2 separate regions of the Homo sapiens genome follow, and region 1 is linked to region 2. Evidence: fine-mapped expression QTL. A gene starts in region 2. The other region holds a variant in brackets. All regions are shown on one strand. Distances are between the middles of the regions. Region 1 overlaps FAM184B (family with sequence similarity 184 member B). Region 2 holds the start of MED28 (mediator complex subunit 28).

The links. PIP is the estimated chance that this variant, and not a neighbour inherited with it, causes the effect. A credible set is the group of variants that fine-mapping cannot tell apart.
Region 1: its variant is the best candidate, but not a certain one, in a credible set for the expression of MED28 in whole blood (GTEx, PIP 0.65).

What each region holds. Positions count from the first base shown.
Region 1 is chr4:17,643,793-17,648,180 of GRCh38, reverse strand. FAM184B (family with sequence similarity 184 member B) reads left to right here. Exons shown (of 18, transcript NM_015688.2): 12 at 390-544. Among named protein-coding and RNA genes, the nearest start is that of MED28, 31 kb to the right of the region's middle. The variant A/G (reference allele first, on the strand shown) is at 2,556.
Region 2 is chr4:17,611,972-17,616,353 of GRCh38, reverse strand. MED28 (mediator complex subunit 28) reads right to left here and starts at 1,713. Exons shown (of 4, transcript NM_025205.5): 1 at 1,541-1,713. The coding sequence starts at 1,699. It overlaps MED28-DT (MED28 divergent transcript), which reads left to right and starts at 1,774. Exons shown (of 3, transcript NR_186331.1): 1 at 1,774-2,212; 2 at 2,316-2,422. RefSeq lists enhancers at 1,564-1,673, 1,774-2,063, 1,169-2,368.

The DNA of each region.
Region 1 (4,388 bases), 32 kb before region 2:
CCCATCCTAACCAACCAGTAGAGGGCAAGCACGGGGTTCAGAGTGAAGAACCACTTGAAATTTTGCATCTCAACTCCACCATTTAATAGCTGTGTGGCTTTGGGCATTGTGCTCACCCTCTCTGATGCTCAGGTCCCTCATCCTAAAATGAAGCGGGGGTGGGGGATAATTCATACCAGAAAAGTTGGTGGTGGGACTTAAATGAGAACAGTTTTCACACATGGCCCTGTTGTTACTGTTACCTTGGAAAAGGTTTGGGGAACCTAACCCACCACAAGCCTTCAGCAGCCACCCACGTCATCCAACCCCACCCCAGAGACTGTTGTCCCCATGACACAGGCTTCAGCCTAGACCCAACGCCTAACTCACTGCTGCTCTCCCTTTTCCAGAGTCGCTCAGACAGGAGCTGTCGGAGCAGCAAGCTGCCTGTTCTGGGCACCAGAAGGACTTGGAGGCACTGCAGGCCGAGCTGAGGGCTCTGGGCAGACAGCAAGCCAGCAGCCAGTGTCCAGGAGACAGCAAGGATCACATAATCGCCACAGAGGTCAGTGCCCCCGCCCTTGCACCAGCAATACCCCTCCCAGAGCAGCATCAGGGCCGCAGTAAGAAGCCCCATAAAGGATGGGCTCTGAGGCTGAGTGCAGTGGCTCACACTTGGAATCTAGCACTTTGGGAGGCCAAAGCCAGAGAACCACTTGAGGCCAGGATTTCAAGACCAGCCAGGGCAACATAGCAAGACTATATCTCTACAAAAAAAAATTGAAAATTAGCTGGGCGTGGTGGCATATGCCTGTAATACTGGCTCGGGAGTCTGAGGCAGGAGGATCACTTGACCAGGAGTTCCAGGCTGTGGTGAGCTATGATTGTGCCACAGTACTCTAGCCTGGGCAACATAGCAAGACCCTGTCTCAAAAAAAAAAAAAAAAAAGGGATGGGCTCTGGGTACTTGGTCATTCCCCTCCCCCCTGCCCGAAGTGGGGAAGACCCTTCTCCACAGGCCTGTGGGATACTTGGTGGGCCTGCAGGGTCTTGTCTTCGAAAAGAAAAAAAAAAAGGTTTTAAGTGCTGCATGTTATTTATAATTCAGACGCAATGGTATCTCAGGGTGTTGGTGCTAGATAGGCCCTCGATGCAGCTGGTCTGGGCTACTCCTCTGGATCTGCAGAACATTTTGAATTTCTCAGAACATTTTACCAGACAGGCTCCATCTAGACCTTGCTGTTCCCCTAAGTGGAGCAGCTTTGTTGTCACCCAGGCTCAGTGCCAACTCTCTTTCCTCTTCCTGCTCAGACTTTGCCCATCAGCCCCTTCCCTGCACATCCATCATTCCTGGTCTAGCTGGGTGGCAGTCACCTCCTAACAGCCCAGCCCTCTCTCCCTCCAGTCCATAACGTACAGCTTCAGCTATTCTCCCAAAGCCCAGCATCACTTTCTTTTCTTTTTTTATTATTATTATATTTTAAGTTCTAGGGTACATGTGCACAATGTGCAGGTTTGTTACATATGTGTGCATGTGCCATGTTGGTGTGCTGCACCCATTAACTCGTCATTTACATTAGGTATATCTCCTAATGCTATCCCTCCCCACTACCCCCACCCCACAACAGTCCCCGGTGTGTGATGTCCCCCTTCCTGTGTCCAAGTGTTCTCATTGTTCAATTCCCACCTATGAGTGAGAACATGTGGTGTTTGGTTTTTTGTCCTTCTGATATTTTGCTGAGAATGATGGTTTCCAGCTTCATCCATGTCCCTACAAAGGACATGAACTCATTCCTTTTTTATGGCTGCATAGTATTCCATGGTGTATATGTGCCACATTTTCTTAATCCAGTCTATCATTGTTGGACACTTGGGTTGGTTCCAGGTCTTTGCTATTGTGAATAGTGTTGCAGTAAACATACGTGTGCATGTGTCTTTATAGCAGCATGATTTATAATCCTTTGGGTATATACCCAGTAATGGGATGGCTGGGTCAAATGGTATTTCTAGTTCTAGATCCTTGAGGAATCACCACACTGTCTTCCACAATGGTTGAACCAGTTTACAGTCCCACCAACAGTGTCAAAGTGTTCCTATTTCTCCACATCCTCTCCAGCACCTGTTGTTTCCTGACTTTTTAATGATCACCATTCTAACTGGTGTGAGATGGTATCTCATTGTGGTTTTGATTTGCATTTCTCTGATGGCCAGTGATGATGAGCATTTTTTTCATGTGTCTTTTGGCTGCATAAATGTCTTCTTTTGAGAAGTGTCTGTTCATATCCTTCACCCACTTGTTGATGGGGTTGTTTGTTTTTTTGTTGTAAATTTGTTTGAGTTCTTTGTAGATTCTGGATATTAGCCCTTTGTCAGATGAGTAGATTGCAAAAATTTTCTCCCATTCTGTAGGTTGCCTGTTCACTCTGATGGTAGTTTCTTTTGCTGTGCAGAAGCTCTTTAGTTTAATTAGATCCCACTTGTCAATTTTGGCTTTTGTTGCCATTGCTTTTGGTGTTTTAGACATGAAGTCCTTGCCCATGCCTATGTCCTGAATGGTAATGCCTAGGTTTTCTTCT[A/G]GGGTTTTTATGGTTTTAGGTCTAACATTTAAGTCTTTAATCCATCTTGAATTAATTTTTGTATAAGGTGTAAGGAAGGGATCCAGTTTCAGCTTTCTACATATGGCTAGCCAGTTTTCCCAGCACCATTTATTAAATAGGGGATCCTTTCCCCATTTCTTGTTTTTGTCAGGTTTGTCAAAGATCAGATAGTTGCAGATATGTGGTATTATTTCTGAGGGCTCTGTTGTGTTCCATTGGTCTATATCTCTGTTTTGGTACCAGTACCATGCTGTTTTGGTTACTGTGGCCTTGTAGTATAGTTTGAAGTCAGGTAGCATGATGCCTCCAGCTTTGTTCTTTTGGCTTAGGATTGACTTGGCGACGCAGGCTCTTTTTTGGATCCATATGAACTTTAGTTTTTTCCAATTCTGTGAAGAAAGTCATTGGTAGCTCGATGGGGATGGCATTGAATCTATAAATTACCTTGGGCAGTATAGCCATTTTCACAATATTGATTCTTCCTATCCATGAGCATGGAATGTTCTTCCATTTGTTTGTATCCTCTTTTATTTTGTTGAGCAGTGGTTTGTAGTTCTTGAAGAGATCCTAAACATCCCTTGTAAGTTGGATTCCTAGGTATTTTATTCTCTTTGAAGCAATTGTGAATGGGAGTTCACTCATGATTTGGCTCTCTGTTTGTCTGTTATTGGTGTATAAGAATGCTTGTGATTTTTGCACATTGATTTTGTATCCTGAGACTTTGCTGAAGTTGCTTATCAGCTTAAGGAGGTTTTGGGCTGAGACAATGGGGTTTTCTAGATATACAATCATGTCGTCTGCAAACAGGGACAATTTGACTTCCTCTTTTCCTAATTGAATACCCCTTCTTTCTCCTGCCTGATTACCGTGGCCAGAACTTCCAACACTATGTTGAATAGGAGTGGTGAGAGAGGGCATCCCTATCTTGTCCCAGTTTTCAAAGGGAATGCTTCCAGTTTTTGCCCATTCAGTATATGATATTGGCTGTGGGTTTGTCATAAATAGCTCTTATTATTTTGAGATACATCTCATCAATACCTAATTTATTGAGAGTTTTTAGCATGAAGGGCTGTTGAATTTTGTCAAAGGCCTTTTCTGCATCTATTGAGATAATCATGTGGTTTTTGTCGTTGGTTCTGTTTATATGCTGGATTATGTTTATTGATTTGTGTATATTGAACCAGCCTTGCATCCCAGGGATGAAGCCCACTTGATCATGGTGGATAAGCTTTTTGATGTGCTGCTGGATTTGGTTTGCCAGTCTTTTATTGAGGATTTTTACATCAATGTTCATCAGGGATATTGGTCTAAAGTTCTCTTTTTTTGTTGTGTCTCTGCCAGGCTTTGGTATTAGGATGACCAGCATCACTTTTCATAAAGCCTTTGGTGGTTCCCATTGGAGAAAGCTCCAAATGCTTCAACTTGGCATTGAAAAGCTTCCACCACTGATTATGACCTGTATGTCCTGCCATATTCCCTGCGGCTCATAAACCCGGCATCTGCACCCTCCCTTTGGCCTTCGCCTGTGCCACTCCTCCTGCCTGAGATGCTGCCCAGCATATCTCATGCTGGGGGCCTTCCCTGGCACACAGTGGCCCCCTCTGGCTCTGAGATCCTGGAGCACTTGTTGTCAAGACAGCTCAGCTGGCTCTAGGATCTACCGCCCGGTCCTGTTGGGGACATGCCATTTCATAGATGTCCTTGTTGCCTAGACTGGATCAGGAGTCTTTTGAGGATAACCTGTCTGCCTGCCTCATCGCCTCCCCACCCCCACTCCCAGCCCTCAGCAGGGTCTCCACCAGTGCCTGTGGG
Region 2 (4,382 bases):
CTAAAGTTCACCAGCCCCTTCCTTTACCACTTAGCACCACCTCAAAGGTGTCTCCTCCTCCTCCTCCTAAACGGTCTGTCCTTTAAATCATTTATTTCTGGCTAGGCGCAGTGGCTCACGCCTGTAATCCCAGCACTTTGGGAGGCCGAGGCGGGTGGATCACGAGGTCAGGAGTTCGAGACCAGCCTGGCCAAGATAGTGAAGCCCTGTCTCTACTAAAAAATAAAAAAAATAGCATGGTGGCAGGTGCCTGTAATCCCAGCAACTCGGGAGGCTGAGGCAGGAAAATCGCTTGAACCCGGGAGGCGGAGGTTGCAGTAAGCCGAAATTGCGCCACTGTACTCCAGCCTGGGCGAGAGAGTGAGACTCCATCTCAAATCATTTATTTCTAAATCTTTGTACATCCGTGTGGTAAAAGCATTTTGTCCATGCAGTCTGAATAATCGCTTGCAAATTATATTCATTTACCACTGTGCTATTAGATACAATACAAAAGTCACAAAGTTGGGATTTTTATTTATTTATATTTTATTTTACTTTTTTGAGACGGAGTCGAGCTCTTGTCACCCACGCTGGAGTGCAATGGCGCGGTCTCCGCTCACTGCAACCTCCGCATCCCAGGTTCAAGCGATTCTCCTGCCTCAGCCTCTCGAGTACCTGGGATTACAGGCGCACGCCACCACGCCTGGCTAATTTTTGTATTTTTAGTAGAGTCAGGGTTTCACCATGTTGGTCAGGCTGGTCTCGAACTCCTGACCTCATGATCCGCCAGCCTCGGCCTCCCAAAGTGCTGGGATTACAGGCGTGAGCCACCGCGCCCGGCAAAACTGGGATTTAAAATGTGGAAAAGTTAACTCCAATTTGAACGTACATTACTTTATTACTACACAGGAATAGCTCATCTTCCACTTTAAAGACTACTGGAAATCACCAGAGCACTTATTTTCACCTCTCTATCTTCCCTCAATATACAGTTCACCTTTCTTGCTACAAGGTAAACTCCTTGGGCAAAACTGAGAGATTGGGTCACCTGTGCCTCCCTCCCTCCCTAACCTCCAGCATTCCTCCTTCCTCAGCTCTTAGTACCAAGCTGCGCCTGGTAACTTAAGTCAATTTCCGCTCTTAAGAGTCCCTTTAGGATCGTTTAAAGGTGAAGCCCAGCGGAAAGGATACAGGATACAGCAGTGAAACTCTCAGCTCCGAAAAGGCTTGAGCCTCTTACTAAACATGCAGGGATGCAAGAAACGGTGCTCGGGGATGAGACTAAGGACCGGCTGGGAATCTGGAAGGGTTCCAAGTTTGGGGTTTAGGCAAACTTCGGGTTCACGTTTCCACAAACGTCGAGTTTACGCGCCCCCGCCAGCAGACCTGAATTGAATACGGGCCACGGGGAAGCCTAAAGCAAGTGACTTACTTTAAGCCTCAGTTTCCCCATTTGTGAATTAGTTGCTCGGATCCCTGGAGGAGATACGCGTACGCGCAGTTCACGTTTCAGAAAAAAGGGAAGGCTAGGGACAAAGACGCCCATGTCTTATATTACCTCGAAAGATGACTCCAACTCGTCCACCAAAGTACTGCTGGAAGGTCTAGGAGCGCCTGGAGCTGCCTGAAGAAGCGAAGCTTGGCCCGGAAGGCCCGGCGGGGCCTGAGGGGGACCGGGTGGCTGCCCAGAAAACATACCCCCTAGTGGAGCCGCCATGTTTGGAATGGCGCAAGAGAGATCCACTGCGCCTGCGCGGAAGCCGGCTCAGAAGCTCACGTGGCTGGTGTAGTAGGCGTGGTCACGTGACAGGACCGAGCGATGGGAGGATTCTGGTGCACCCCGGAAGGAGGATTTTTAATTCTTCTGTTTTCTTGTCTATCGCAAAACAGAGTTTACATGTATTTTCCTTTTTTCTTAGCTTAAGAATTGAAGACTTTGGCCGGATTAGACCTGGTTGTGTGGAGAGGAGAATTAATAACTACAGTGGAGCGAGCCCTCCTGCGAGAGTCAGGATACTACTATGCTAGTCCCGACTCTGCCCCAAATGCCTGGAGAGACTTTGGCTAAGTCACTTTTTCTTTCCGCGGGCTGTTTACCGTTGGTAAAAGGAGAGGGTCACCCACTCACTCCACAAACATTTGTTGAGTCATTGGTTATAGCGGGAACAAGACAGGCAAAGTTCTTCCTGAATTCTGGTCGGAGATGGATAACGGAAACAACTTTGTTGAGGTTCCCAATGTGCCCGGCACTGATGTCTTTAAATATTTATGGTTACATCAAAGAGAAAGTCACTATGCTAATCTTTTTTTTTCTTTCTTTTCTTTTTTCTCAGGGTCTCGTTCTGTCGCCCTGGCCGGAGTGCAGTGTCATGATCAGGGCTCGACCTCCCGGGCTCAAACAATCCCCCTACTTCAGCCACCCAAGTAGCTAGGACCACAGGTGCGTGCAGTCGCGACGGGCTTTTTTTTTTTTTTTTTTTTTTTTTTTTAGTTGAGTCAGGTGTTTTACTGAGCTCAAGTGATTCTACCGCCGCGGCCTCCCAAAGTGTTGGGAATACAGTAATGAGCCAAGGCGCCAGGCTGCTAATTTTTTTTTTTTGAGACAGAGTCTCGCTTTGTCGCCCAGGCTGGAGTGCAGTGGCGCGATCTTGGCTCACTGCAAGCTCCGCCTCCCGGGTTCACGCCATTCTCCTGCCTCAGCATCCCGAGTAGCTGGGACTACAGGCGCCCGCCACCACGCCCAGCTAATTTTTTGTATATTTGGTAGAGATGGGGTTTCACCGTGTTAGCCAGGATGGTCTCGATCTCCTAACCTCGTGATCCGCCCGACTCGGCCTCCCAAAGTGCTGAGATTACAGGCGTGAGCCACCGCGCCCGGCACTAGGCTGCTAATCTTGTAGTAACCTGCTTTTAACATTTGCTTATCTCTCTCTTTTTTTTTGGTGACGGAGTCTCGCTCTGTCGCCCAGGCTGGAATGCAGTGGCGCGATCTCGGCTCACTGAAACCTCCGCCTCCTGGGTTCAAGCAATTCTCCTGCCTCAGCCTTCCGAGTAGCTGGGACTACAGGCGCCCGCCGCTCGGCTAGTTTTTCTGTATTTTAGTAGCGCCGGGGTTTCACCTTGTTGCCCAGGCTGGTCTCGAACTCCTGAGCTCAGACAATCCGCCCGCCTCGGTCTTCCAAAGTGCTAGGATTACAGGCGTGAGCCACCGTGCCCAACCTTCTTATTTATCTCTTTAAAACCAAATAACTTTTTTTCATTATATCTGATTTTACAGTTATTACCCAGCACACTTACTGAGCGCTCCACTTCCCAGGCACTATTTAATGATCTGGAGGTTATAGCAATCATCCCAAATCTCTGGAAGGAGACAGACAAGCACATAAATACATAGCAATATTGTGCAGAGAGAAGAGCTGGGAAGGAAAATGAAACCCAGTAAGGGGATGGCTAGTGAGAGGGGTGTTCTTTGAGATAGGTGATTGGAGGAGGCCTCTCCAAGGAGATCTGGACTGTAGTGACTGGCATGAAAATTTAACTAGGAGTGCTTTCTACACCGAAGGATCCCTGAAGAAGCAGCCTGCCTGGGATGTTTAAGGAACCACAGGAAGCTCATTGCCAGAGGAGTGAGCCAGGGCAGAAATGTTCAGAGAAAAAGCAGGAGCTTCCCTTTGCCAACCAGGCTCGGATCAAGTCATCTTCCCAGCCTCAGTTTCACTTAGATCCCCACTCCTAAGTACTTTCCCCTGTTTAATTTTCTTCACAACATTTATGTAATCTGAAATTATCTTGTTCATTTTTTCATAACTGAATCACCTGCCCTCCTCCTCCTTCTCTCTCTGTCATACACATGCCAACTAGAAAATAAGTTCCGTGCATCAGAGCCTGCCCATCTTATTCACCTGTATCCCCAGAATCTAGAATGGTGCCTGGCATAATAGATATAATAAATATGTGATGACTGAAAGAACCAGAAGAGACCGCCAGGAGGAAACAAGCCTACTCCAGCAGTTTTCAGACAGTTTTGGTCTCAAGACCCCTTTACACTCCTAAAAATTATTGAGGATCCCAAAGTTTTTGTTTATGTGGGTTAAGTCTGCTAATATTTATCTGATAAGTTAAAACTGAGAATTTTAGGCTGGAGGCAGTGGCTCATGCCTGTAATCCCAGCACTTTGGGAGGCCGAGGCAGCCGGATCACAAGGTCAGGAGATCAAGACCATCCTGGCTAACATGGTGAAACCCCATCTCTACTAAAAATACAAAAAATTAGCCAGGCGTTGTGGCGGGCGCCTGTAGTCCCAGTTACTTGGGAGGCTGAGGCCGGAGAATGGGGTGAACCCAGGAGGCAGAGCTTGCAGTGAGCCGAGATCATGCCACTACACTGCAGCCTGGTTGAGA